Regions from separate parts of the Homo sapiens genome. Here region 2 is linked to region 1. A link means that fine-mapping ties the variant in region 1 to the expression of a gene that starts in the linked region. Tissue or cell type: whole blood. Region 1 holds a variant in brackets; the other region holds the start of a gene. All regions are shown on one strand. Distances are between the middles of the regions.

Region 1 (2,500 bases):
CATTGAATAGACATTTCACTATAGATATACAAATGGCCAATAAGCGTGTACAAAGATGCTCAACATCACTGTTAGGGATATACAAATTAAAACCACAATGAGGTACCACTTCAAACCCACTAGGATAGTAGGAGGGTTATAACAAAACTGATAGGCCAGGTGTGATGGCTCAGACCTGTAATCCCAGCACTTTGGGAGGCTGAGATGGGAAGATCACTTGAAGCCAGGAGTTCAAGACCAGACTGAGCAACACAGCATGGCCCTGTCTCTACAAAAAAAAAATTTTAAATAAACTGGGCATGGTTGTGGCCAATTGTAGTCCCAGCTACTCAGAAGGCTGAGGCGGGAGGATCGCTTGAGGCCAGAGTTTGAGGCTGGAGTGAGCTATGATTACACCACTGCACTCCAGCCTGGGTGACAGAGACCCTGTCTCAAAAAAAAAAAAAAAAAAGAAAAAAGAAAACAGAAGAAAAGATGGACAATACCGAGTGTCAGAGAAGATGTGGAGGAATTAGAACCCTCAGGTAAATGGTGCAGCCATCTGGAATATAGTTTGGCAGTTTCTCATCAAGTTAATCCTAACTTACCATATGACCCAGCAATTCCATTCCTAAAATTTTACCTAAGAGTAATAAAAATGTAAGTCCACGCAAATAATTGTACGCAAATGTGCAGAGCAGCATTATTCATAACAGCCAGAGAGTGGGAACAACCCAAATGCCCATCAACTTGTTAAGATAACCACACATTAGAATACGATTCAGCAGTAAAAAGGAACGAACTACCCACATGTAATATGATGTGGATGAACCTCAAACATATTATGCTAAAGAAAATAATCCAATTAAAAAATGGACAAAAGAGCTGAAGAGACATTTCTCAAAAGATGATACACAAATTAGCCAACAAGTATGTGAAAATATGCTCAGCATCACTCATCATCAGGGGAATCATCAAATGAAAACCACATGAAAATGACTACTATCAAAAAGACAAAAATAGGCTGGGCATGGTGGTATGTGCCTATAGTCCCAGCTACTTGGGAGGCTGAGGTGGGAGGATCACTTGAGTCTGGGACTTCTAGGCTGTAATGCAGAATGATCATGCCTGTGACTAGTCACTGCACTCCAGCCTGGGCAACCTCATCTCTTAATAAAAAAAAACAAAAAGAAAGAAAAAAAATGCTGATAAGAATACAGAGAAAAGGAAACTCTTTTTTTTTTTTTTTTT[G/TG]AGACAGAGTTTTGCTCTTGTTGCCCATGTTGGAGTGCAATGGTGCAATCTTGGCTCACTGCAACCTCTGCCTCCTGGGTTCAAGCGATTCTCCTGCCTCAGCTTCCCAAGTAGCTGAGATTACAGGCACCTGCCACCATGCCCAGCTAATTTTTGTATTTTCAGTAGAGATGGGGTTTTACCATGTTGGCCAGGCTGGTCTCGAACTCCTGACCTCAGGTGATCCACCTGCCTCAGCCTCCCAAAGTGCTGGGATTACAGGCGTGAGCCACCACACCCAGCCGAAAAGGGAACTCTTACACACTATGGGTGGAAATGCAAATTAGTGTAACAATTCTAGAAAACAGTATGGAAATTTCTCAAAAAACTAAAAATAGAACTACCATATGATGTAGCAATCCCACAACTAGGTTATCATCTAAAGAAAAGAAAATCAGTATATCAAAGAAATACCAGCAGTACCATGTTTACTGCAGCACTATTCACAATAGCTAAGATATGAAATCAATCTAAATGTATATAAATGGATGAATGGATAAAGAAAACATGGTACACACACAGGAATATTATTTGGCCATAAAAAAATGAAACTCTGTAATTCACAGCAACACGAATGACCCTGGAAGCCATCATGTTAAGTGAAATAGGCACAGAAAGATACATACTGCATGTCCTCACTCATATGTGGGAGCTATGAAAGTTGAGCTCATAGAAGTGGAGAGTAGAACAGCGACGACTAGAGGCTGGGAAGGGTAGGGGCAAGGGGAGAACAAAGAGGTTGGTTAACAGGTACAAAATTACAGCTACATATGAGGAATAAGTTCTAGTGTTCAATAGCACCTAGGGTGACTATAGTCCAAAATTTATTGTGTATTTTCTTTTCTTTCTGTTTTCCTTTTTTTTTTTTTGAGACAATCTCACTCTGTCACCCAGGCTGGAGTGGTGTAGTGCGATCTCGGCTCACTGCAACCTCCACCTCCCATGTTCACGCAATTCTCGTGCCTCAGCCTCCCAAGTAACTGGGATTACAGGGGTGTGCCACGAGGCCCAGCTTATTGTGTATTTTTAAATAGCTAGAGGAGAAGATTTTGAATGTTCCCAACACAAAGAAATCAGAGACGTGTGAGGTGATGAATATGCTAATTACTTGGATTTGATCATTACACACGGGATACATGTATCAAAATATCACTCTGTACCCCATAAATATGTAGAATTATTATCTATCAATTAAAAAGGCACATTACACTATGTGAGAGAAGCCAGATCC
Region 2 (2,849 bases), 96 kb after region 1:
AAGACCATCCTGGCTAACACGGTGAAACCCTGTCTCTACTAAAAATACAAAAAATTAGCTGGGCGTGGTGGCGGGCGCCTGTAGTCCCAGCTACTCAGGAGGCTGAGGCAGGAGAAGGGCGTGAACCTGGGAGGCGGAGCTTGCAGTGAGCCGAGATTGCGCCACTGCACTCCAGCCTGGATGACAGAGTGAGACTCTGTCTCAAAAAAATAAAAAATAAAAAAATAATTAGCCAGGCATGGTGATGTGTGCCTATAGTCCCAGCTACTCGGGAGGCTGAGGTGGGACAATCACGTGAGCCCAGGAGTTTGAGCTGTGATTGCGCCCCTGCATTCCTGCCTGGGTGGCAGAGCAAGGCCCTGTCTCAAAGAAAGAAATTGAATTAAGAAGCATAAAGAGGGAAGCCTGTTAGCTATGGAGGAATGAGCAGAAACTATAGGGCAACAAGGAACTGGTGAGGAAGAGAGAGAAGAGAGTGGATATGCCAAGAGGAGCAAGGGCGTTGTGGAGCAAGGAAGAGAGAGAAGAGAGTGGATATGCCAAGAGGAGCAAGGGTGTTGTGGAGCAAGGAACTGAGAGCCCCAGTTTCACATGTGTCCTAAAAATCATCTCCCTTGTTCATTAATTCATTCAATTGTTCATTCAACCATGGCTTATTCTGTTAAGCACTGTTCTAGTCAGGCTCTGGGGACTTCATATTAAGCAAGTTCCTGCCCTATTGGGATTACATTCTGGTGGGAAAAACGGACAATCGTTGAGTAACAATTAAAGACTCACACAGAGGCATTCCTGATTATGAATGATAGAATGAAGGAAAGAAACTCAGGTCTGAGAGAGAGAAGCAGTGGGGAACTGAGAGCAGACAAGGAGGGCTGTGAAGATCAGATCTTGGAGAGGGCCTTGGAGCTGAGAATCAGAGGGTGGAGAGGAGGCAGCCAAGCAAAGGGAGTGGGAAAAGGACTTCACTCAGAGGACTCTGCCCTTGTTGGGAGGGGCTTGCTGGCTTCCAGGAATGGGGTGAGGGTGGTGGGGCGGGGAACAGTGGAGCCAAAGGGAAGTGGGGTTGGAGAGGTGGGAGGAGCCAGATGAGTCCTGCCTTTCTGTTAATTTAGATGAAGTTCTGTTCTGGATGTGGAGGAACGGGGTGGGGGGGCATCTCCCCATTCTGGGAAGCTTCAGTTCTTGGCAGAAGTGAGAAAGCTACTCCTGACCGTGGGCATCGGATGGGTGGTGATCAAACTAGGATGCATTCCCTCCCTGGCTTTTAGTGTCTGTTGGTTAGCCAGGGAACTTGAGTTAGGCACTGTATTAAGCATGTCTTTTTATTCTGATGTTTTGACATCTGGGGTCTTACTGACTCCAGCTCCCAGGGCTAGCTGCCCTTCCCTGGGCTAGCTTACAAAGCACACCTTTCAAATGCAAACCAACCAATCCAGATCCCACACCCGCAACCGCCCCCTTTATCAGGCTCTCACACTCTGGGCCACCACTCCCCTGCCCTAATCACCCCAGGGCCAGGTGCCAGACAACTCAGGGCGGATCCATATCCCACAGCCTACTGACAAACCAGCCAACCCTAAACCTGCTTCCCCTGCCTTGCCCATTCCTTACCATAGAAAACCACAATAAAGCCTCTAGCCCGTTTCCCCTCACTCCCTCTGCCTCCTGAACAACCCTGATGCTTCCCTGTGTGGTCCCTTGTGGCATAGAGTGCCCCCTCTTCTCAGGAACTGTGAGTAATAAACTATCTTTTTAGTGATGGTCATTCCTGACCTGTTGGGCTTCACCATACCTACATTATTTATTTATTTATTTATTTATTTATTTATTTATTTATTTATTTATTTATTTATTGAGACAGAGTCTCACTCTGTCACCCAGGCTGGAGCGCAATGGTGCAATCTTGGCTCACTGCAACCTCCACCTCCCGGGTTCAAGTGATTCTCCTGCCTCAGCCTCAAGAGCAGCTGGGATTACAGGCATGCACCACCACACTTGGCTAATTTTTGTATTTTTAGTAGAGACAGGGTTTCACCATGTTGGCCAGGCTGGTCCTGAACTCCTGGCCTCAAGTGATCCACCCGCCTTGGCCTCCCATAGTGCCGGGATCACAGGCGTGAGCCACTGCACCCGGCCTCACCACACCTGAATTATAATAAAACCTACGTTTTAAAACACACACCCATCCACCCAGTCTCTAAAACCTCCCCCAAGGCCACCTTCTCCTACCTCCAGATGGTGATGGCCAGGGTGCACAAGACCCCGGTGAAGGATGGGAAAAAGAGCAAGAAGATGAAGAAAGTCATCATCTGTGAGGCCCGCCAGGCTTTGCTCGGAGGCTGGAAATTCATCATCAGGCTGATCTGAAGAGAGAGAGGCAGCCACCTCCCATCTGCAGCCGGAGCAGCGGCAGAGGGACCCCAGCCAGGCCTGGCTTCCTGACACCTTTGCAGAGCCCCCTTCCCCAGCTTTAAGCGCCACCAGGTCACAGGTGACTGAACAAAGCTGATTGATGGCAATGTCGGACTGACTCACATTTTTGGAGTAGAACATGATGAAAAGCATAATCATTTGGATAAAGGGCAGCAGGGGGCAGAAGAAGATGCCAATCCTGTGAGGGAGAGAGGGTGAGTGTCAGAGGCTGGCGGAGACACAAGGAGTCGGGGTGAATCTGGGATGGTTGGGGGGAAGAGAAAGAAGATATTGTGGCCTGGATTGTGTGTCCCCAAAATCCATATATTGAGGCCTTAACCCCGAATATCTCAGAATGTGACTGTATTTGGAGACAGGGCCTTTGAGAGGTGATTAAGGTAGAATGAGATCACTGTAGGAGGCCCTAATCCAGTACA

What was found. PIP is the estimated chance that this variant, and not a neighbour inherited with it, causes the effect.
Region 2: it holds the start of TMC5-AS1, and the variant in region 1 is fine-mapped to the expression of TMC5-AS1 in whole blood (INTERVAL, PIP above 0.99).

The regions. Positions count from the first base shown.
Region 1 is chr16:19,583,358-19,585,857 of GRCh38, reverse strand. The region is part of intron 7 of VPS35L (VPS35 endosomal protein sorting factor like); the gene reads right to left. Among named protein-coding and RNA genes, the nearest start is that of VPS35L, 29 kb to the right of the region's middle. The variant G/TG (reference allele first, on the strand shown) is at 1,231.
Region 2 is chr16:19,486,707-19,489,555 of GRCh38, reverse strand. It overlaps TMC5-AS1 (TMC5 antisense RNA 1), which reads left to right and starts at 1,655. Exons shown (of 3, transcript XR_007065016.1): 1 at 1,655-1,732; 2 at 2,236-2,627. TMC5 (transmembrane channel like 5) reads right to left here. Exons shown (of 22, transcript NM_001261841.2): 16 at 2,536-2,611; 17 at 2,230-2,363. RefSeq lists an enhancer at 860-1,548.